Regions from separate parts of the Homo sapiens genome. Here regions 1 and 2 are each linked to region 3. The links come from fine-mapping of genetic effects on gene expression. A gene starts in region 3. Each other region holds a variant in brackets. All regions are shown on one strand. Distances are between the middles of the regions. Region 1 overlaps SRRM3 (serine/arginine repetitive matrix 3). Region 2 overlaps STYXL1 (serine/threonine/tyrosine interacting like 1). Region 3 holds the start of MDH2 (malate dehydrogenase 2).

Region 1 (8,185 bases), 190 kb after region 3:
GGGACTGCCCATCAGACTTGCACTGTCAGTGAGCTGAGAAATCGGAAATTCCCTACACGGGGTGGGGGGGCGGGGAGCTGGAGCCTGGAGCCACATGGGGCCAGACACAGCCTGTGTCCTTCAGTCCTTCCAAGCCACACCTTTGTCCACCCCAGGCCTCCTGGGCTCCCTTAGACAGGGGCCACCATCTCTGAGGAGCTTAGGAAGACCCCCAGGCTTAGGCAGAGACAGCGAGTTGCTGAAGGCCATCCGGAAGGCGGGGGGCCAAGGCGGAGCCAGGATCAAGAGCCCTGCTGGCTGCCAGGCAAGGCTGCTTGTAGGGAGAAGAAGGGGTAATGGGGACCTGATGCTCACCTCACCCAGAGGACCAGGTAGCGGGGAGGAGGCCCCTTGCAGAGAGGGATGGATGGATGGATGGCAGGATGCTGAGGACACACACAAAGGAGGTTCCAGCTGGCAAGGGAACATGTTGATGAGCTGTGGGTACCGGAAGAGGGAATGAGATCTCAAGGGGCAGGGGCAAGGAGGGGCGAGGTGGGGAGCATCTCCTACAGTGAGAACCTCAGGTCGTGAATTAAACCGGCAAATCCAGCCAGATTCGGTGGCTCACGGCTGTACCAGCTCACGTGGCTCCCGGCACTTTGGGAGGCCGAAGTGGGCAGATCGCTTGAGGTCAGGAGATCGAGACCAGCCTTGCCAACATGGTGAAACCCCATCTCTACTAGTAATACAAAAAAATTTAAAAGGCCAGGTGCGGTGGCTCACGCCTGCAATCACAGCACTATGGGAGGACAAGGCGGGCAGATCGTGAGGTCAGGAGATCGAGATCATCCTGGCAAACACAGTGAAACCCCATCGCTACTAAAAATACAAAAAATTAGCCGGGCATGGTGGCATGCACCTCTAGTCCCAGCTGCTCAGGAGGCTGAGGCAGGAGAATCGCTTGAACCCGGAGGCGGAGGTTGCACTGAGCTGAGATTGTGCCACTGCACTCCAGCCTGGGTGACAGAGCAAGACTCCGTCTCAAAATAAAAATAAAAATAAATTAGCCAGGCATGGTGACGAGCGCCTGTAGTCCCAGCTACTCGGGAGGCTGAAGCAGGAGAATCGCTTGAACCCGCGAAGCAGAGGTTGCAGTGAGCCAAGATTGCGCCACTGCACTTCAGCCTGAGCAACGGAGGGAGACTCCATCTCAAAACAAAACAAAAACAAACACACAAACAAAACCTGCAAATTCTGCGAAATTCTGTCTGGAGAGTCAAGGAGGGAGGGGAGTGTGGGCAGAGGACAAGAGGGTTGACAGGGACAGACAAGGTGTTCCCTGCACTTTCCTGCTCCTCCTCCTCCCAGAACTCCACCTCCTTGATGAACCCATCCCCATCCTCAGCCCCTCTCCCTTCACTAAGTCCCCTCCTCTTCTCTGTACTTTCCCATCCTGAAAGCCCTCCCCCTCAAAGACCTTCACCCTTTCAAGGAACCTTCCCTCACTGAGCCCCTCCCCAAGCAAAAGGTGATGGCATTTGGCCACGTCCTGGGTGTAAGACCCCCAGCATCAAGGATCCTTGCTTCCCTGGGAAGCACCCACTATGTCCCCACTTGCTCAGTCAGGGTCCCTTCCCCCACCCAAGCTCTCACTTGAGGTGGTCCTTATCCTGGAGCCACCTCTGAAAAACCAGCTCTTGAATGGCCCTCCCCCTGCCCTCCCCATCCTCAGCAGGGCATTTGATCATGGCAGGGACAGGCATTCTGAGACTCCCAAATCCAGGCTTCCAGCCCTATCTTGACCTTGAACAAGCCACGGTTTACTCACCTGGAAAATAGGGGCACCTGTGTTCTGGAGCTGTTCTGAGAGTCCTCCGTTGAAGACACACATGGGACTGCCCAGCCCCCAGCCAGTCCTCACAAAGTGCCAGCAAACACCAGGCACCCCTGCTCTTTTATCAAATCGAGTCATTAATATCCATTTCTAGAAACACTGGTTCAGTCCCGTTTATTTACCGGGTTCTCGGGCATTTGACAAATATTCACATCAGTCACAGGAACACACACTCTTTGGCCTCATTAAAAAGCAATCCTTTTCCTTAATATTGATGGCTGGCTGGCTAATCCACTGGTGATTGATGGCGTACTTGGAGTCACCTTCCCAGACAGCCTTGGCTTGCAGTCTGCAATCACCGCGGGGCGGGACGGAGCCTCCAGCCTTTCTGACGAGATGCTCCCACCCCAGCCCCCAGCATCCTCCCTGCCACCCTGTTTATCTTCTTGCCATGCCTCTTTTTTAGTTTGTTTGTTTCGTTTGAGATGGATTCTCGCTGTGTCACCCAGGCTGGAGTGCAGTGGCATGTTCTCTGCTCACTGCAACCTCTGCCTCCTGGGTTCAAGTGATTCTCCTGCCTCAGCCTCCTGAGTAGATGGGATTACAGGCACATGCCACCACACCTGGCTAATTTTTGTACTTTTTAGTAGAGACGGGGTTTCACCATGTTGGCCAGGCTGGTCTTGAACTCCTGACCTCAAGTAAGCCACCTGCCTTAGCCTCCCAAAATGCTGGGATTACAGGCATGAGCCACCATGCCCAGACGCCATGCCTCTTCTTGTAAGGACTTGGGTGAGGCGACAGAGCACAGCTCCATCCCTAGCTAGTCTTGGAGCTTTGTTTGTTTTTCCCTTAGGCGGAGTTTCACTCTTGTTGCCCAGGCTGGAGTGAAATGGCACGATCTCGGCTTACTGCAACCTCCACCTCCCAGGTTCAAGCCATTCTCCTGCCTCAGCCTTCCGAGTAGCTGGGACTATAGGAGCACGCCACCACACCCAGCTAATTCTTTGTATTTTTAGTAGAAACGGGGTTTCACCATGTTGGCCAGGCTGGTCTCGAACTCCTGACCTCAGATGATCCACCCACCTCGGCCTCCCAAAGTGCTGGGATTACAGGTGTGAACCACCGCACCCAGCCTAGGCTTGGAGTTTTGAGCCCTCCCTCCCCTCTCCCTGTTCTGTTTGCTCATCTATAAAATGGGAATCAAAAGGCTACCATTCCAGCCGCTGTGGCTCATGCCTATAATCCCAGCACTCTGGGAGGCTGAGGAGGGAGCACTTGAGCCCAGGAGTTTGAGACCAGCATGGCAACATAGTGAGCCCCCTGCCAATCCACCTACAAAAAAAAATTTTTTTAACTAGCCAGGTGTGGTGGCACATGCCTGTGGTCCCAGCTACTCAGAAGGCTGAGGTGAGAGGATTACTTAAGCCTGAGAAGTCGAGGCTGCAGCGAGCTATGATTGCACCACTGCACTCCAGACTGGGTGGCAGAGCAAGACCCCATCTAAAAACAAAAAACAAAAACAAAAACAAAAACAAAACAAAACAAAAGGTCACTGTCTGGCCTAATGTAGGAATTCATGCCTGTAATCCCAGTACTTTGGCAGGCCAAGGCAGAAGGTTTTCTTAAGGCCAGGAGGCCTGGGCAACATAGGGAGACCCTGTCTGTACCAAAAGATAAAAAATTGCTGGGCGTGGTGGCTCATGCCTGTAATCCCAGCACTTTGGGAGGCCAAGGTAGGTGGATCACCTGAGGTCAGGAGTTCGAGACCAGCCTGGCCAACATGATGAAACCCCATCTCTACTAAAAATACAAAACAATTAGCCAGGTGTGGTGGTGGACGCCTGTAATTCCAGCTACTCAGGAGGCTGAGGCAGGAGAATCGCTTGAACCCAGGAGGTGGAGATTGTAGTGAGCTGAGATCACGCCATTGCAATCCAGCCTGGGCAACAAGAGTGAAACTCTGTCTCAAATAATAATAACAATAATAATAATAATAATAATTAGCTGGTCATAGTGGCACACTCCTGTAATCCCAGCACTTTGGGAGGCTGACGTGAGAGAATTGCTTGAGGCCAAGAGTTTGAGACCAGCCTGTGTAACATAGCAAGACTCCATTTCTACTTTTAAAAATTAAAAATAGGCCGGGTGCATTGGCTCATGCCTGTAATCCCAGCACTTTGGGAGGCCGAGGCGAGCAGATCACGAGGTCAGGAGATCGAGGCCATCCTGGCTAACACGGTGAAACCCCTTCTCTACTAATAATACAAAAAATTAGCCGGGTGTGGTGGCAGGTGCCTGTAGTCCCAGCTACTCAGGAGGCTGAGGCAGCAGAATGGCGTGAACCCGGGAGGCGGAGCTTGCAGTGAGCCGAGATTGCGCCACTGCACTCCAGCCTGGGCAACAGAGCGAGACTCCATCTCAAAAAAAAAAAAAAAAAACATTTTTCACTCTGAGGAACTCTTAAAATTCAGTGTCCCCTCACCCTACTCCTGTCCCAGAGAGCGACCCAGGAAATCCCCAAAGCCACAATGCATTTGGCATGCCCTTCCCTTATGGCCCATAGAGTGGCATGAGGACTAAGGGAGCCAGACTGGCTGGGGGAACACGTGGGCCAAGAGGCTGGGGACCCTGGGACAGACATCACTGCCCCCTATTCCCCCTTCCCCACCCACACACAAGCCCTTGACGTTGTTTTTTTGGTTTTTTGTTTTTTTCAAGACAGAGTCTCCCTCTGTCACCCAGGCTGGAGTGCAATGGC[G/A]CCATCTTGGCTCACTGCAACCTCCGCCTCCCAGGTTCAAGCGATTCGTCCTGCCTCAGCCTGCCAAGTAGCTGGGATTACAGGTGTATGCCACCATGCCCAGCTAATTTTGTATTTTTAGTAGAGATGGGGTTTCACCATGTTGGCCAGGCTGGTCTCAAACTCCTGACCTCAAGTGATCTGCCCGCCTCGGCCTCCCAAAGTACTGAGATTGCAGGCATAAGCCACTGTGCCCGGCCTAGAAACCCTTGACTTTGAGTTTGAAGCTTTGGCCATGCTAGCCAGCCTTCCTGCATGGCCCTAGGCTGGCCGGCTCTGCCACCTCCACAGGGAGCAAGTGGTTTGGGTAGCAGCCTCCCCCTTTATCCCAGCCTTTGCCTCCTGGCAGAACAGACAGAGAAGAGGCCCAGGCAATTCTCGGAGCTGGTGCCATGCCAACCTGGCAGGGGTCTCAGATGGAAAAGGGCAGGGAGCCTGGGATGACTGTACACTCTGTCCCCACTGCTCTGGGACAGATAAGCTTCAGTTGCTACTATTTATTTATTTACTTATTTATTTATTTTTGAGACAGAGTCTCACTCCATTGCCCAGGCTGGAGTGCAATGGCGCAATCTCAGCTCACTGCAACCTCTGTCTCCTGGGTTCAAGTGATTCTCCTGCCTTGGCCTCCCGAGTAGCTGGGACTACAGGCACGCACCACCACGCCCAGCTGATTTCTGTATTTTTAGCAGACACAAGGTTTTATCATGTTTGCCAGGCTGGGGTCAAACTCCTGACTTCAAGTGATCCACCCACCTTGGCCTCCCAAAGTGCTGGGATTACAGGCATGAGCCACTGTGTCTGGCCAGTTGCTACCATTCATTGAGCACCTACTATATGCCAGGCACTGTGCAAAGTGATGTAAATACATCACGTCTGTGTTAGCCCACTTTGCATTGCTCTAAAGGAAAACTTGAGGCTAGGTAACTTATAAAGAAAATAAGTTTACTTGGCTCACGGTTCTAGAGGCTTGTACAGAAGCATGGCGCTGGCATCCAATTGGCTTCTGGTGAGGCCTCAGGAAGCTTTTAGTCATGATGGAAAAGAAGGGGAGCCAGCATGTCTCACATGGCACCAGAGGGAGAAAGAGGGAGAGGAGAGACACCCCAGACTCCTTAAAACAATCAGCTCTTTCCTAAACTAATAGAGCAGCAGTCTCCGACCTTTTCAGCACCAGATACCAGTTTTGTGGAAGAAAATTTTTCTGGCTGGGCGAGGTGGCTCACGCCTGTAATCCCAGCACTTTGGGAGGCTGAGGTGGGTGGATCACCTGAGGTCGGGAGTTCGAGACCAGCCTGACCAACATGGAGAAACTCCATTTCTAGTAAAAATACAAAAATTAGCTGGGCGTGGGGGCGCATGCCTGTAGTCCCAGCTGCTTGGGAGGCTGAGGCAGGAGAATCGCTTGAACCGGGGAGATGGAGGTTGTGGTGAGCCGAGATTGCACCTTTGCACTCCAGCCTGAGCAACAGGAATGAAACTCTGTTTCCCAAAAAAAAAAGAAAATTTTTCCATGGACTAGGCGGGGTGGTGGGGGGATGGTTTCAGGATGATTCAAGCACATTGCATTTATTGTGCACTTTATTTCTATTATTATTAGACTGTATTATGTAATGAAATAATTCTACAACTCACCATCATGTAGAGTCCGTGGGAGCCCTGAGCTTGTTTTCCTGCAGCTAGACAGTCCCATCTGGGGTGATGGGAGACAGTGACAGATCATCAGGCATTAGATTCTCACAAGGAGCGTGCAACCTACATCCCTCGCATGCGCAGTTCACAACAGGGTTCCCACTCCTATGAGAATCTAATGCCACCACTGATCTGATAGGAGGTGGAGCTCAGGTGGTAATGGGAGTGATAGGGAGCAGCTATAAATACAGGTGAAGCTTTGCCCCCTTGCCTGCTCCTCACCTCCTGCTGTGCAGCCTGGTTCCTAATAGGCCACAGAGTGGTACCCCAACCTGAGGTATCAGCAACCTCTGTAATAGAGTGAGAACTCACTCATGGCCATGGGGAGGGCACCAAGCCATTCTTGAGGGATCCACCCCCATGACCCAAACACCTCCCACCAGACCCCACCTCCAACACTGAGGATCACATTTCAACATGAGATTGGGAGGGGACTAATATCCAGATGACAACCTTGAAAGGTGGGTCCTGTTCCCATTTCACAGATTAGAAGCTAAGGCTGGGAGAAGCACATGGACTTGCCCAAGGCCACAGAACTGGGAAGTGGGAGGTGCCAGGATTCAAAAGCAGGACTGTTGGGCTCCTCTGTCTCTCCCCGTCATCACTGTCCCAAGTGGCTCAGCTGAGAAGATTGATTCCAAGAGATAAGAGGGGAAAGGACACTCAGAGGTGGTGGTCACATGAGACCAATCACCAGGTGTCATCCTTGTGTCCCCAGCTTCTCCCAACAAGATACCCTGGGGCACAGAGGGACCCTCCCCAAGCCTCTGAGTTGGTTCAATCCAGCAGCCCATCCTCAACAGACAGGTGCTGGAGTTCATCAACTTGCCTCCAGCCCACTGACTCCAGGACGACCCCCAGCCCTGCATATATGCCGCTGCAGGTCTCCCTGAAACCCATTTGTGCCCATTTCCCAGCCTTCCATGTGCCAAAGACCCCCAGGAAAGGGGGCTTGGATCCTGGCCTGAAACCCCCTGCCAGCCCCCCACAAGCAGCTGGGGAATGGCCCACCCTCACCCTTAGGCCATCTCTTCCCACCCACCTGGCCCAGGGTCCCATGCCAGTCTCTGTCTCCCTCTGTGGGGCCTATAAATTAGGGGCTAAGCAGTGTTGGAGGGCCTGTGCTGTGTTTGTCTCTGTGCTGGTGACAGTGACAAGCTAGTCTCTGCAAGAGAAGGTGATGTGGGAGCAATTGCTCTCTGCCTCTGCTGGGGGGGTGGGGCACCACCCTTTCTTCCTGGGTGCCAGGCTCTGCACTGCCCAACTCACATGCCCAGACAAGGGACCTCCAGGTGAATGCCCGAGTCTGAGGGCCACACAGGGACTGAGGTGGACACTGAGGAGCCAGGGCCCTGAACTTGGTGGAGCTAGGTTGGTGGCAGCAGTGCAGGGTGGCCTGAGCCACGAGGGGATGGGGGGTTAGAAGAAAAGCCCCCCACCCCTAACCAGGCCAGGACCCAGCCCTCCCCACGGTGAGCGACACAGCAGGCTGAACCCACACAGACTCCGACCCTAGCTGGGGGTCAGGGGACACCTGCTTAAGAAGTAGGTGGTGACCAGGCACAGTGGAACATGCCTGTAATCCCAGCACTTTGGGAGGCCGAGGTGGGTGGATCATCTGAGGTCAGGAGTTTGAGACCAGCCTGGCCAACATGGTGAAACCCCATCTCTACTAAAACTACAAAAATTAGCTGGGCATGGTGGCGGATGCCTGTAGTCCCAGCTACCCGGGAAGCTAAGGAGGAGAATTGCTTGAACCTGGGAGGCAGAGGTTGCAGTGAGCCGAGATTGTGCCACTGCACTCTAGCCTGGGCGACAGAGCAAGACTCCATCTCAAAAAAAAAAAAAAAAAAAAGTTGAAGAAGAAGAAGAAGTAG
Region 2 (8,185 bases), 35 kb before region 3:
GCAAAACTCCATCTCAAAAAAAAAAAAAAAAAAAAAAAAAAAAAAATCTCAAAGAAGCTCTGCAGTAGAGAAATCCACTCCAACTGGATAACTTGATGTTTCCATGAGGCTCTGATTAGAGACCACTTTCTCCATTATTACACCACAGAAAATGCTGACCTTTGCCAAAGATCAAAATCAGTTCCAAAAGTCCCCTGGCTCTAAGTCTGACTCAGAAATAACATTTTAAGGACCTCAGGCGTGTGGGTCCTTCAGAGCCACCTGAACTCAGCACATCTCACTCCCTTCCCCACGGCAGTGAACCCTCTGCAAGCCCACATCCTTCCCAAGCTACCAGCTTCGAAAGCCATTAGTAAAGAACAGACACCAAGCTGAGCCAGTTCTCCAGCCTGTGACACGGAGATGCATGACCCCCCACTGCCTGCGGGCAGGCCCAATTTACTCCAGCATGTGGGCTGCCCCTAACCCGGATGGACGCTCAGCTTGCTGGTGCCAAATGAAATCCCCCTTTCAATTTCCACTTAAAAATCTCGCTAAAAGGCCAGGCATGGTGGCTGATGCTTGTAATCCCAGCACTTTGGGAAGCTGAGGCAGGTGGATCACCTGAGGTCAGGAGTTCAAGACCAGCCTGGCCAACATAGTGAAACCCCATCTCTACTAAAAATATAAAAATTAGGCGTGGTGGCACACGCCTGTAATCTCAGCTACTCTGGAGGCTGAGGCAGGAGAATCACTTGAACCCAGGAGGTGGAGGTTGCAGTAAGCCCAGATTGTACCACTGTACTCCAGCCTGGGCAACAGAGATGCTATCTCAAAAAAAAACCAAAACAAAACAAAACAAAAAAAACCCCACAAAAATCCCATAGCAAATCTATCAACCCCTCTTCCTGCTGTTTTTAAACCAGCTTCCTTTTCTGCGGTTGTGTGGGTTTGGCTGGGAAGAGGGTGTGATGTGGATAAAAACACACTGTACTGTAGAATGTGTGTAAATGCTCAGTGACACAATGCAAACGAAACCAGTATCTCAAATGAATATGCCCGAACTGGGCACACTGCCTTCCCCCAAAACCACCTCCTTCTTCCCCCACCCCGCCCCCTCCCGAGTGTTCCCCAGAATGAACCACATCACAGCCCCCGTCACCCACGCCTAAAACCAGGGCATCATCCCAGCCCCCTCTCTCTCCTATGCCCTCATGTCTGATCGGTGCTACCTCCTAAATCTTTCTTTCTTCTTTTTTCTTTTTTGAGATGGAGTCTCACTCTGTCACCCAGGCTGGAGTGCAGTGGTGTGACTCAGCTCACTGCAACCTCCGCCTCCCGGGTTCAATTGATTTTCCTGCCTCAGCCTCCTGAGTAACTGGGATTACAGGCATGTGCCACCACACCCAGCTAATTTTTGTATTTTTAGTAGAGATGGGGTTTCACCATGTTGGCCAGAATGGTCTTGATCTCTTGACCTCGTGATCCGCCCGCCTTGGCCTCCCAAAATGCTGGGATTACAGGCGTGAGCCTCCAAGCCCAGCCTTTTAAAAAAATTTTTGTGTAAACAAGGTCTTACTATGTTGCCCAGGCTAGTCTCAAACTCCTGGACTCAAGTGATCCTTCCACCTCCTCTTTGACCTCCCAAAGTGCTAGGATTCCAAGCTTAAGCCACCACAGCTGGCCAGTCACCTACATTCTAAAGACAGCTGCAAACAAGTAACCCAATCCAACCCTCACAGCTACCCTAGCCACAACCCTGCGCCTTCTTCCCAATGTGACTAGACTAGGAGCAAAGGCAAGTTTCAGGAATATGCAACTGTCAAAACGGACCATACCGGGCCTTTTAAATATGTGCAGTTCATCATGTCAATTACACCTTACTAAAGCTTCAGAAATGAGGAGGTGGCAGTGATGAGTTATCAGCAGCGTAGGGTTTGCAGAGAAGAAATTAATCTCTCTGCACCCTGCAAAGCCAGGGTGCTCCTCCAAGAGCAAGGAGGAGCAAGGAGGAGTTCCAATCAAGATAAGACTTGATTCAGATTTGAGGCTGGAACATTAAACTGCCCTGGCTTATACTAGACTGATTGTCTTTACTTCCTTTATTTAACTGACTGTACACCTGTTGAGCTGAAATTCACAGTGCTGTTATCTCAGTGGAAGAAAGGGATGTCTTTGGGAGCCAGGCATGCATACCCTGGATCTGGGAACATGTCTGACCTCAGGCATGAGTCCCTGCCTTCTACGATTCCGGTGAAGGAATGTGGGCATGCGGGGCAGGGGACGGGTCATGGGCTTCCAAGTTAAGGGGAGGAAGTTGGAGGAGATGCCTGGCAGGGGTTGAAGGGAGTCACCACTGGCTGCGTTCTCTGGGAGATCCTCAGCCCCAGAAGGAGCCAGGGTGAGGCTGAGCTGGGTCCCGAGAAACCCAGCAGCAGAGGCTACCAGCAGCTCACACAGCCAGACGGGGCCAGAGAGCAGGCACTTTCCCACCACTAACACGCAGCCAGGCACACAGACAGGTCCACTCTGGGCCCTACTGCCAAAGGTACTCTGCCCAGAAGAGGGGAAGAGAGCAGCTGTCCTTAAAGCTAACCCCCATCCCTCCCTACTTTGAGTGCCCCCAGCAAACCCTAGGCTGCCCAGCTCTAGGGCATGGGAAGAGATGAGACTTGATTCAGATTTGAGGTTGGAACATTAAACCGCCCTAGCTTCTACTAGACTGTCTTTTTACTTCCTTTAACATTATTTCAAAACTATACACTAGTTGGCCAGGTGTGGTGGTTCATGCCTATAATTCCAGTACTTTGAGAGGCCAAGGCAGGAGGATTGCTTAAGGTCAGGAGTTTTGGACCAGCCTGGGGAACATAGCAAGACCCTGTATCTGCAAAAAATTTTAAAACTTAGCTGACTGTGGTGGCATGCATCTGTAGTCCCACCTACTCAAGAGGCTGAGGCTGGAGGATACCAAGCCCAGGAGGTGGAGGCTGCAGTGAGCTATGATTGCACCACTGCACTCCAGCCTGGGCAACAGAGTGAGACCCTGTCTCTAAAACGTATATATCGCCCAACTTCAAACATTAACAACTCATTGGCCAATTTTGTTTCCTCTATACCCTCACTGCCTTCTCACCTCACCCCAGATTATTTGAAAGGAAATTCCAGACATCACGTCATTTCACCCGTAAATATTTTGTTCTGTATTTCTAAAAGATAAGGACTTGTACTTTATAATAACCATAACAATGTCACTACAACCTTCGAAAAGCAACAATTCCTAAACACAGTCAAACATCCTGTGAATAGTCACATTTGCCCAGTCATTCTATACTATGATTTCGATTGAAGTTTTTTGTAACCAAAAGTGGCCAGAAAGTATGGAATCTGCTCACGATGTTGCTAAGGGCAGGAAGGGGAACACAGCTGAAGGCAACTGTTAGAAAAAGTTAAAACCACTTTCTGTTTACATTCCATTGTGTTCAGACGCTTCAATAAGCCAGACATCTGTACACGGCACTCTCCAGGGACCAGGCCCTGCCTGCAAATCTCTGCATAGTCTGGTGCTAGCCTTAGACAACTCCACCCAGTTCTCTTCCTCGAAATCTCCTCCTCCGTCAGATTTGGCTCTGGGAAGCTCAAGTGCCCCTTCTCTGGGCTCCAGATACCCGGGGCGTCCCTTGACACAGTCCAGCTTCCAGCCACTGCCTCCCCTACAGACAGGACCAGTCATCAGCAGAAACTGGAATCTCAAAATTGTTTTGTTTTGACAAAACTGACCATGAGTTGACAATGTTTGGAGCTAGGTGATGGACAAAGGGGTTTAATATCTGATTCTCTTTTTGTATTAAAAAATAGGCTGAGTGCAGTGGCTCACGCCTCTAATCCCAGCACTTTGGGAGGCTGAGGCAGGTGGATCACTTGAGGTCAGGAGCTGGAGACCAGCCTGACCAACATGGTGAAACCCTGTCTCTACTAAAAAAGAATTATAATAGAGATGGGGGTCTCACTATACTGCCCAGGCTGGTCTTGAACTCCTGAGATCAAGCAATCCTCCTGCCTTGGCCTCCCAGAGTGCTAAAACTACAGGTGTGAGTCGCCACACCTGGCTGATTTTCTTTTTGTTTTTTTTGGAGACAGGGTCTTGCTTCGTCAACCAGGCTGGAGTACAGTGGCATGGCAACGGCTCACTGCAGCCTCGACCTCCTGGGCTCAAGCAATCCACCCATCTCTTTTCTAAATTATTTTTTTGAGCCAGGGTCTCACTCTGTCACACAGGCTGGAGTGCAGTGGTGTGATCTCGGCTCCCTGCAACCTCCTCCTCCTGGGTTCAAGTAATTCTCCTGCCTCACCCTCCTGAGTAACTGGGACTACAAGACAGGTGGGCCACTATGCCCGGTGAATTTCTGTATTTTTGGTAGTCAGGGTTTTGCCATGTTGCTTAGGCTGGGCTCAAACTCCTGAGCTCAAGTGATCCATCCAGCTTGGCCTCCAAAAGTGCTGGGATTATAGGCGTGAGCCACCACAGCCAGCTCCATTTATTGATTTTTTTGTAGAGACAAGGTCTCACTATATTGCTCAGGCCGGTCTCAAAGTACTGAGCTAAAGCAATCCTCCTGCCTTGGCCTCCCCAAGTGCTAGGCTTATAGGCGTGAGCCACCGTGCCTGACCAATCCTTCCCACTTTTGTGTATTTTTGTATCCTCTGGATCCAGCTAGGATTTGTGGAATCAGACAGCCAAGAAAAAAGAGGTGGTCTCGAGCCGCCATGCCCCTGCCTTTCTGACCTTGGTATCGGTCCACCATCCAGCCTGCCCTCTGAATGGGTCCACCTTTGCTCACTGTTTCAACCCGACAGCCATCAGTTCCTTATAAAGAACTGTGGCCGGGCAGGATGGCTCACGCCTGTGATCCCAGCACTTTGGAAAGCCGAGGCAGGTGGATCACTTGAGGTCAGGAGATCGAGACCATCCTGGCTAACAGGGTGAAACCCTGTCTCTACTAAAAATACAAAAAATTAGCCGGGCGTGCTGGTGGGCGCCTGTAGTCCCACCTACTTGGGAGGCCGAGGCAGGAGAATGGCGTGAACCTGGGAGGCAGAGCTTGC[A/G]GTGAGCCAAGATGGCACCACTGCACTCCAGCCTGGGCGACAGAGCGAGACTCCGTCTCAAAAAAAAAAAAAAAAAAGTGGAGGAGATGGGGGAGACTGGGCTGCAGACATGAACTTAGGGCTGCCAGGAGTCCAGATCTAGTTTTTTTTTTGTTTGTTTTTGTTTTTGTTTTTGTTTGAGACAGTCTTACTCTGTCATCCAGGCTGGAGTACAGTGGCATGATCTTGGCTCACTGCAACCTCTGCCTCCTGGGTTCAAGCAATTCTTCTGCCTCAGCTTCCCTAGTAGCTACGACTATGGGCACGCACCACCACGCCCAGCTAATTTTTGTGTTTTTAGTATAGACAGAATCTCCTCCACTTTCTCTATATCCTCTGTCCCATCCTCCTGTTTCTCCCACTCAGTCACCCACAAGTCAGTTTCTAGGCCCATCCTTCCCGTCTGGGCCTGCCTGTGCTCAGCATTTGGCCCTACCTGAGGCATCCAGATGATCTTCTGGGTCCGGAGAAAGTGGTACGTGCCTGAGAAGCGCTCATAGCCCCCTTTCAGGATGTAGACGGGGTGGTGGGTGAGGCGGGTCAGGATCCTGCCATACTCAATGGCTGCTTGAGGCACAAGATCTGAGAGTGGAGACCAAAGACATGAATGTCTCCTGTGTATCTGCCATTGGTCTAGAGCTGGGATAGATGACCACTTTCTTCTGAAATGCAATTATTTTATTTATTTTCTGAGACAGAGTCTCACTCTGTCGCCCAGGCTGGAGTGCAGTGGTGCGATCTCGGCTCACTGCAACCTCTGCCTCCTGGGTTCAAGCGATTCTCCTGCCTCAGCCTCCCAAGTAGCTGGGACTACAGGCGCCCACCATGCCTGGCTAATTTTTTATTTTTAGTATAGACAGGGTTTCACCATGTTTGCCAGCCTGGTTTTGAACTCCTCAGCTCAGGTGATCCTTCAGCCTCGGCCTCCCAAAGTGCTGAGATTACAGGCGTGAGCCACCATGCCCGGCTTGAAATGCAATTATTTAGGAAGCTGAAGCAAGTATAGAGATGCATCATATTAAAATTTTAAAAGTAGCTTACCACCGGGTTTTTTTTGTTTTTGTTTTTGAGACTGGGCTTCACTCCATCTGGCTGGAGTGCAGTGGTACAATCTCGGCTCACTGCAACCTCCAGCTCCTGGGCTCACACCATCCTCCCACCTCAGCCTCCCGAGTAGCTGGGACTATAGGTGCGCACCACCACACCTGGCTAAATTTTGTATTGTTTTGTAGAGACAGTGTCTCACTTTTTTGCCCAGGCTTGTCTTGAACTCCTGAGCTCAAGCAATCTACCTGCCTCAGCCTCCCAGAGTGCTGAGATTACAGGTGTGCTCAGCCTAAGTTAATCTTCTTTTCTGCAAACTCTGAGATATATGTATTGTATGATGTCATACAATACATATATCTCAGAGTTTACAGAAACTGCCAGCTCGTTAACCACTCATATGCATACATATGGTTTACATATTATATACATGTATATATTATATTTATACCACATATATATGTCAACTGTATGTTGTGTATCACACAATTCACCCATTTAAAGTGTGCAATTCAAAACATATAGACCAATGGAACAAAATAGATAACCCAGAAATAAAGCCACACACCTATAACCATCTGATCTTCAACAAAGTTGACAAAAATAAGCAATGGAGGCTGGGGATGGTGGTTTACATCTATAATCCCAGAACCTTGGGAGGCAGAGGCAGGAGAATTGCCTGAGCCCAGGAGTTTGAGACCAACCTAGGCAACATGGAAAGACCCCGCCTCCACAAATAAAATTCAAAAAATTAGTTGAGTGTGGTGGCGGGCACCTGCAGTTCCAGCTACTAGAGAGGCTGAGGCAGGAGGATCACCTGAGCCAGGGAGGTTGAGGCTGTAGTGAGCAATGGTCGTGCCACTGCACTACAGCCTTGGAGACAGAACAAGACCTTGTCTCAAAGAACAGGAAAGGGGAAAGGACTCCCACTTATTGGTCAATAAATGGTACTAAGATAACTGGCTATCCATATGCAGAAGAATGAAACTGGACCCCTATCACCATATACAAAAATCAACTCAAGATAGATTAAAGACTTAAATGTAACACCTGAAAACTATAGAAATCCTAGAAGAAAATCTAGGGAATACCCTTCTTGACATTGGCCTTGGCAAATAATTTTTGGCTAAGTCCTCCAAAGCAATTGCAACAAAACAAAAATTGACAAGTGGGACCTAAGGACACGAAAGTGCTTCTGCACAGCAAGAAAAACTACCAGAGTAAACAAACAGCCTGCAGAATGGGAGAAAGTATCCACAAGCTATGCATCCAACAAAGATCCAATATCCAAAATCTATAAGGAACTGAAATCAAGAAGCAAAAACCAAACAACCTCTGATGGTTAATACTGAGTGTCAACTTGATTGGGTTGAAGGATGCAAAGTACTGATCCTGGGCGTGTCTGTGAGGGTGTTGCCAAAGGAGATTAACATTTGAGTCAGTGGACTGGGAGAGGCAGACCCACCCTCAATCTGAGTGGGCACCATCTAATCAGCTGCCAGTACAGCTACAACATAAAGCAACCAGAAATACATGAAAACACTAGACTGGCCTAGCCTCCCAGCCTACATCTTTCTCCCTTGCTGGATGCTTCCTGTCCTCAAACATTGGACTCCAAGTTCTTCAGCTTTGGGACTCACACTGGCTTCCTTGCTCCTCAGCTTGCAGACAGCCTATTGTGGGACCTTGTGATCACACGAGTTAATACTCCTTAACAAACTCCCATATATATAGATACACATGTATCTACATATACACGCATATATATACACACACATATATCTATACATATGTACATGTATAGATATAAGTATATACATATGTACATTTATAGATATATGTATATCTATACATATGTACATGTATAGGGATACATATATATAATTATGTGTGTATAGATATACGTATATCTATATGTATGTGTGTATATATGTATATCTATACATACATGTGTATATATACACGTATATCTATACATATGTGTGTATATATACACGTATATCTATACGTATGTGTGCAC
Region 3 (8,180 bases):
GGCATGATCTCGGCTCACTGCAACCTCTGCCTCCTGGGTTCAAGCAATTCTCCTGTCTCAGCCTCTCCAGTAGCTGGGATTACAGGCGCCCGCCACCGTGCCCAACTAATTTTTTGTATTTGTAGAGATGGGGTTTCACCATGTTGGGCAGGCTGGTCTCAAAACTCCTGACCTCAGGTGATCCACCCACCTCAGCCTCCCGAAGTGCTGGGATTACAGGCGTGAGTCACCGCACCCAGCCGAGAAGCCATTTTAAAGGAACTTTGCCCAAGAGGGCCACCGAGAGGGAAAATGGACCAATGGCATGTGGTGGAGGATTCCAGAAGCCAGGGGCTGAGGGAGGAATTGAAGCAGCAAGACTGAGATGGCCACCTGATCATGGGAACTGGAGGTAAGAAAGACCCCCAGAAGCACTGCATGGGAGAGTCAGTTACAAATTCCCATCAAGCTGAGACAGTAACAAGGCCAGATGTCGAAGGGGCTTTTCTTGCCCCATCTCTACTCTCTTATAACCCCCTCCACCAACACAGGATGCCTCAGAAGCCATAGTTGGCCTGGGCTGGGGTGGGATGGAAGAGGAAACAAAATAAACAGAAGTCAACTACTGTCCTCCTCAAATGTGGGAGCCCAAAGAAAGCTTGAGAGGGGAAGAGAAGCAGCTTTACCTTTGAATTAAATTCCTAGTTTTGATTATTAACATGAACTGGACAGTAAGTCTGTCCTAGTAACCAGACACAATCCAAGGGCAAGCAAAGATTTAAAGACAGAAAGCTGCTGCATGATTGAATTCTACTTCTTGACTGTGGAAACCCTGCTTGTTTAATATAAGTTTCACTTGCAAAACACCAAGTAAAATCAATGCCTACCACACAGTGCTTCATACAGCAGCCAATAAGACTGTTGTTAATTACCTTGGTATTTCCTTAGAGAGAGGCAGATAGGAGCTGAGTGTGAGGCTTTTTATGTTTTTTTCCTTTGAGATAAGGTCTCATTCTGTCACCCAGACTGGGGTGCAGTGGTGCAAACACAGCTCACTGCAGCCTCAAACTCCCAGGCTCAATTCTCCTGCCTTAGCTTCCTGAGTAACTGGGACCACTGGCACATACCACCATGCTTGGCTAATTTTTATTATTTGTAGACAGGGTCTCCTGTGTTGCCCAGGCTGGTATTGAACTCCTGGGCTCAAGCGATCCTCCCACCTTGGCCTTCCAGAGGGGTGGAATTACAGGCATGAGCCACTGCACTGGGCCAAATGTGAGGCTTTTCTAGCAGTCAAGTTGTTTGGGATGGCCCAAGTAGAAGGCTTGGGAGGTAGCGAGTTCCTCTTCTGTGGAGATGAGGACTTGGGAGGGATGTGGAGGAAACTGAATTCCAGATGTGGGAGGGAGCCTGACAATCTGTGATTCCAGTTTATTGCTCATGGTCTCAACTCTCCCCCTCTACAGAGGTGACTTCCGCCCTGGCCTGAGTTTCAATCCCACAGTTCCTTTTTTCCCCCCTTAAATGAGACATATCTTGCTCTGTCACCCATGTCAGAATGCAGTGGCACAATCATGGCTCACTACAGCCTTGACCTCCCCCGATCGCCTGAGCTCAAGCGATTGTTTCATGTCAGCCTCTTGGGTAGCTGGGACTACAAGCACACACCATCACGCCCAGAGAATTTTCGTACTTTTTGTAGAGATGGGGTTTTGCCATGTTACCCAGGCTGGTCCTGAATTCCTGAGCTCAAGTGATCGTCCGCCTTGGCTGCTCAAAGTGTTGGGATTACAGGCATGAACACGGCCCATACCACTGAAAGGTCTATATGGACAACTCAGCATAACTCCCAATTAAGCCCATCTAAAACGGAACTCTTTATTTTTTCTCCTCTCCTTTGGTATAACCTCCTTTATTTTTCTCCTCTCCTTTGTATAACCCGACTTCCCTCTTTATGTATTTTCCACACCTCTTTCTTTCACTCCTCAAACCCAGATGAGCACAGACTGTTACCCATTCTTCCCATGAGACTTCTCCCACACTGGCCCTACCCACTCCATTTCTATGGCCACCACCGTAATTCAGACCTTTGTCATCCATAAAATAGATTCCTAAACAATCTCCCTGAATAGATTCCTAAACAATCTCCATTTTTTTTTTCCTGGGAATTCTTAGCATACAAGGTCAGTCTAATCTTCCTCAAACACAGTTCTGGCAGTGTCACAAAAGCCTGATTGGCCAGGTGCAGTGGCTCACGCCTATAATCCCAGCACTTTGAGAGGCTGACTCGGGCAGATCACTTGAGGTTAGGAGTTCTAGACCAGCCTGGCCAACATGACAAATCCCTGTCTCTGCTAAAAATACAAAAATTAGCCAGGTGTGGTGGTGCACACCTGTAATCCCAGCTACTTGGGAGGCTGAGGCAGGAGAACTGCGTGAACCCGGAGGTGGAGGTTGCAGTGAGCCGAGATCGCGCCACTGCACTGCAGCCTGGGCAACAGCGTGAGGCTCCATCTCAAATAAATAAACAACCTTTGATAAACACTTGCTTCCCAAGAAATGAAATACAAACTTCTCAGCTAACATTCATGGGACCGGCACAATCTAGTTTTTCCCAACCTGCTGTTTCCAGCTGTACCTAAAACCACTCAACTCTCCACAAATTCACTGAGGCCCTTTCAGCCCAGTCGCATGTTGGACAAAAAAAACAGAAGAAAGACTTAGTACCTGGCAAGACTTAATACCTGGCTCTGAGGTGCTCTCAGTTACAAGACAGAGGAGTAAATAATTACCAGAAGATGCAGTCAGTGATAAGATAAACAAAGGACACTGCTTGCCCTAATGTCCCCACTCCAAAATAAATGATCTATTCACTGTCCCCTGAATACTGGCCTATGCTTATTTTTTCCCGCTAGGATTTTATTTGGCCTTTTTTCTCCTCCTTTCCTGTCTAAACATTTCCCATTGTTAAATGCTCAGGCCCTAGTGCCCCTCCTTTGAGAATTCTGATTCCAAGGCAAGGGATCTTTCCCTCCTCTGGAGTTGAATGTTCCATTGAGAAACACCTACTCTTCCAGCATGTCTCAGCTTATCTGCTGTGTGTGTGTGTGTGTGTGTGTGTGTGTGTGTGTGTGTGTGTGTGTGTGTGTGTGTGTGTGTGTGCGCGCGCGCGCGCGCGCGCTTTTGAGCCGGAGTTTAGCTCTTATCACCCAGGATGGAGTACAATGGCACAATCTTGGCTCACAGCAACCTCCACCTCCTGGGTTCAAGGGATTCTCCTGCCTCAGCCTCCTGAGTAGCTGGGACTACAGGCACACGCCACCATGCCCAGCCAATTTTTGTATATTTAGTAGAGATGGGGTTTCGCCACATTAGCCAGTCTGGTCTCAAACTCCTGACCTCAGGTGATCTGCCCGCCTTGACCTCCCAAAGTGCTGGGATTACAGGCATAAGCCACCACACCCGGCTTTTTTTTTTTTTTTTTTTGAGACAGAGTCTTTCTCCGTCGCCCAAGCTGGAGTACAGTGGGGTTATCTCGGCTCACTGCAACCTCCCTCCACCTCCCGGGTTCAAGCGATTCTCCTGCCTCAGCCTCCGGAGTAGTTGGGGCTACAGGTGTACACCACCACGCTGGGCTAATTTTTGTATTTTTAGTAGAGATGGGGTTTCACCATGTTAGCCAGGCTGGTCATGAACTCCTGGCCTCAAGTGATCGGCCCGCCTCAGCCTCCCAGAGTGCTGGGATTACAGGCATGAGCCACCTTGCCTGGGGGTGTTGTTTAATTTTAAAAATATGTATCAGGCCGGGCGCGGTGGCTCACGCCTGTAATCTCAGCACTTTGGGAGGCCGAGGCGGGTGGATCACGAGGTCAGGAGTTCGAGACCAGCCTGACCAACGTGGTGAAACCCCGTCTCTACTAAAAAAAAAATACAAAAAATTAGCCAGGTGTAGTGGTGCGCTAATCCCAGCTACTCAGGAGAATGAGGCAGGAGAACCACTTGAACCTGACAGGCAGAGGTTGCAGTGAGCCAAGATCGCGCCACTGCACTCCAGCCTGGGCTAGAGAGACTCCGTCTCAAAAAAATAAATAAATTCATACATTTAAGTAATAAACTCATTGTGAGCAAGGAATTCTACTCGACTTTCTGTCTGCGTAAACTCTACAAATCCACTTGGCCTCAGCCACAGTGTCTTTATTCGTAAAGCAGAAACAGTGGGACCGTCAGAGCACTGCCGGGCAGGCGAGAGAAGACAGGAACTGTATGACCACGGAAGTTGTTGTCCCTACAACCTATTTGCTCATCTGGAACACAGAATAGTGGTCCTCTAAAGCTTGCAGGGCTGGAGGTCGCCATTATCAGCAGTGGTGTCACTAAACCTGAACCCAAGGGTCTCTGCAACTTGGGAAACGACGGCCCGGATCTGAGGAGATGGCCCCTTCCTCCCACCCCGCCTAAGGACTCTCAGCCTCCCTGACCCTACCTTTCCGGAGCTCAGAGTCCCCTCTGGCCTCCAAGGGCAGAAGGAATGGGTTTGGCTGAGGTCGGGGGCTCGGGTCTGGGACGCGCTCCACCTCCCCGGCTGCGCGACTATGGCCAGGCTCCCTGTCGGAGCCTCTGCCTGGGGCCCCACCTGGAAAAATGGCTCCTCTAAGGCGCTTCCAGCCTAAAGCCCGTCCTCTTCCACCTCTTGGGTGCAGACTGGCCCTCCCACTCCGACCGCAGGTCCCCCACCGGCCACACAGACGGCTACGCTAGAACCCAGCCAAACACCGGGGTTGCCAGGATGGTCCCACAGCTTTCCTTTCCGACTCCCGGAAGTGGCCGTGATCTCACGAGATCCCGGAGGCGAGCGCGACCGGAAGTCCGGTCACTCTCGCGAGGCCCCAGAGAGCAGGCGCTGGGCAGTGTGGAGGTCGTTGGAGTCACTTCCCCGTCACCAGCTCCTGTGCCTGCCAGTCGGTGCCCCTCCCGCTCCAGCCATGCTCTCCGCCCTCGCCCGGCCTGCCAGCGCTGCTCTCCGCCGCAGCTTCAGCACCTCGGCCCAGGTAGGCCAGACGAGGGGCGGCCTGCAGGCGGAGGCCCCCCGGCCCGGGCCACGTGCGTCCCCGGTTCGCGGGCAGCTCTGACCCTCTCCAGGCCAGCCTGGACCGCAGGGATGCCCGGCACTGGCTGGAGACTGTGGCGCCCGGGGCAGGCCCTGACACTGGCCTGGAGGTGCGGGGGAGAAAGCCGGGGAAAAGGGGGCGAGGTAGTCCCGCTCCAGGGCCGGTCCATTTGTCAGGGTTCCCCCAGGTCTCCCAGATTTCCCAGAGGACCTGCTCTTGGCTTGCACGCCTTCAAGGTTGGGAAACCAGGGCTCTGCATCTGAAAGTAAACTTACGTTTTTTTCTGCAGCGTTCCATTGCTTTGACGTAGCTAATCTCCTTGCAGCATCCGTGTGAGTTGTGCGTGAATAAAAGAAATCGTATACTTCCTAATTCCATAGTATGGACAAACCGAGGCTAGAGAACTGGGCCAGGGTTACAGTCATTTGGCCAGAGGATTAGAATTCAGCGCTTCTGACCTGAAGACGGCTTCCTCTTAACCTTTTTGGAGGATCTCTCCTGCTGTGGGCGGACTGAGCCTGCCGCCAGGTGTCTTAACAGTGCTTGACTTGGCCCGCGACCACTTAAGCCTAGGAGCCTAGGCTATTTTTAGCCATCTTCTAGAATGGTGGTTCTTAAACTCTGCAGTGTGTCAGAATCACCAGAAAGCTAATAAAAAACAGACGTCTGGGTTCATTGAAGAAGCTTAAGACTGCGGGGGGGGGGGGGGGGGTCCGCATTTTTACCAGGTGAATCTAATTAAACCTAATTTTGAGAACCCAGGAGGTGCTCGCATTGCCTTTTAATTACGACGCCCAAGAGGGAGGTAATTTTAAAGGGGAATCCAAATTTATCATCGAAGTTCTCGAGTTTCCTGTACATCCAGTTCATTTGAAAAATAAATACAAATGCTCCTGGATTGATGGCTACTTCCCATACCCATCGCAAGTTGGTAATATCCTAAGTCAAAAGGCGAGTTTAACTTTGTGTATTTTCAACTTGCAATGGGTTCCCACAGGCAACCCCATTGTAAGTTGAATGTACCAAATGCTTTTGCGCTGCGGTGAAGTGGGGGCCCAGCTGTATACAGATAAGTACATTAAGTACCTGTGCTTGCCAACAACTATGCTGGGTGCTGCAGGGGATACCAAGATAAGTGAGAAGTGACACTTGATATGGGACAGGAATGAGTAAACTTAGGACAGGTGGAAGCGATGAAGGTCTTAGGGAATGAGTAAACTTAGGACAGGTGGAGGCGATGAAGGTCTTAGGGAATGAGTAAACAGGACAGGAGGGATGAGGTGTGGGGGAGGGGCAGCCAACCAAAGAGAGGACAGGGGTGTCCAGGGAGAGGTTGAGTTTTGGTAGGACCTTCAGATATCCGACATATTTATTGAGCTAGGTACTGGAAATACAGCGGTGAACAAAACACAGAAGTCCCTGCTCTCACGGAAATTACTAGATATTTTACTTATTGCCCCACTCATTATAAAGTATCTTAAAATAGTGATGAACATGCAAGAAAAATGGGGATTGTAGGGTGCTTGTGTTAGGGAAGAGGGTACCAATTTTATTTACTTTTTTTGATGCAGTGCCTCGCCCTGTCGACAGGCTGGAGTGCAGTGGCGTGATCTCGGTTCACTGCAGCCTCCACCTCCCAGGTTGGAGCGATTCTCCTGCCTCAGCCTCCCGAATAGCTGGGACTACAGGCGCGCACCACCGTGCCCAGCTAATTTTTGTGTTTTTAGTAGAGATGGGGTTTCACCATGTTGGCCAGGATGGACCTGACAGAGTCCCACTCTGTTGCCCAGGATGGAGTGCAGTGGCGCCATCTTGGCTCACTGCAACCAACTCTTGGGCTCAAGCTATCCTCCTGCCTCATCCTCCCGAGTAGGTGGGAATCACAGGCAAGGGCTACGACAGCTGGGTAATTTTTGTAGTTTTAGTAGAGATGGGGTTTCACCATGTTGGCCAGGCTGGTCTCAAACTCCTGGCCTTAAGTGATCCACCCTCCTTGGCCTCCCAAAGTGCTGGGATTACAGGCGTGAGCCACCACTCCCAGCCGAGGGTAGCAGTTTTACATCAGCCAGGGTAGGCCTCACGCAGAGTGAGATGTTTGAGTAAAGTCTGAAGGAAGCAGAGATCACATCATATGGAAAGAGTATTGCAGGTAAGGGATATGTCTCAGGATGTAGCTGAGAGCCCTTGGAGAAGCATGGGGCATGCCTTGAAGGTTTGAGAAAATGAGGCTAGGGTAGTTCCAGAGAAGGCAGTGGAGGTAACAGAACAGGCCTTGTAAAACTTTGGTATTTTCTCAGAAATGGGGCGGCCAGTTGAGGGTTTTCAGCTGCGTAATGACTTGCTCTTCCTTCCATTTTAACAAGATGGTCTTAGGAGTGAGAGAAAGGTAGGTTAGGAGTTCATTGTGGTTATCTAGGTGCAGGTGGTAAGAAATGATTGAATTCTGGGTATTCATTGATGGTACCAGAAGGATTTGCTGATGTGTGATTAGATAAGGGGTCGGGGATGACACCAAGGTTTTGGGCCTTGGAGTTGGGCTGAAATAGGCAAGACTTATAGAAGAGAGTGGGTTTAACCAGGGAGAAGATATCAGGAGTTCAGTTTTTATTTATTTACTGAGAGTCTCGCTCTGTTGCCCAGGCTGGAGTACAGTGGCGTGATCTCGGCTCACTGCAGCCTCCGCCTCCTGGGTTCAAGTGGTTCTCTCACCTCAGCCTCCTGAGTAGCTGGGATTACAGGTGCTGCCACCACGCCCAACTAATTTTTTTTTGTATTTTCAGTAGAGATGGGGTTTCGCCATGTTGGCCAGGCTGGTCTCAAACTCCTGACCTCAGGTGATCCACCTGTCTTGGCCTCCCAAGGTACTGGGATTATAGACGTGAGCCACCACACCCGGCCAGGATCTCAGTTTTTCATATGTTCAATTTAAAATGCCTGTTGGGCATACAAGCGACATTGTTGAGAAGGCAGCTGATGAAAGCAGAAAGAAAGATGGGCTTGAGCCCATGGTGCAGTGGTCTCCAGACTTTGGATTTTTTTTTTTTTTTTTTTTGAGACGGAGTTCCGCTCTTGTTGCCCAGGCTGGAGTGCAAT

Evidence for each region.
Region 1: its variant is fine-mapped to the expression of MDH2 in skeletal muscle (GTEx, PIP 0.98).
Region 2: its variant is fine-mapped to the expression of MDH2 in skeletal muscle (GTEx, PIP 0.97).

What each region holds. Positions count from the first base shown.
Region 1 is chr7:76,236,381-76,244,565 of GRCh38, forward strand. The region is part of intron 2 of SRRM3 (serine/arginine repetitive matrix 3); the gene reads left to right. Among named protein-coding and RNA genes, the nearest start is that of SRRM3, 39 kb to the left of the region's middle. The variant G/A (reference allele first, on the strand shown) is at 4,578.
Region 2 is chr7:76,008,185-76,016,369 of GRCh38, forward strand. It overlaps STYXL1 (serine/threonine/tyrosine interacting like 1), which reads right to left. Exons shown (of 9, transcript NM_001317785.2): 5 at 5,558-5,703. Among named protein-coding and RNA genes, the nearest start is that of TMEM120A, 18 kb to the left of the region's middle. RefSeq lists an enhancer at 302-481. The variant A/G (reference allele first, on the strand shown) is at 5,083.
Region 3 is chr7:76,043,200-76,051,379 of GRCh38, forward strand. It overlaps MDH2 (malate dehydrogenase 2), which reads left to right and starts at 4,907. Exons shown (of 9, transcript NM_005918.4): 1 at 4,907-5,027. The coding sequence starts at 4,962. STYXL1 (serine/threonine/tyrosine interacting like 1) reads right to left here and starts at 4,801. Exons shown (of 9, transcript NM_001317785.2): 1 at 4,463-4,801. RefSeq lists enhancers at 4,274-5,056, 4,502-4,591, 4,702-4,781, 5,057-5,838 and a silencer at 5,032-5,191.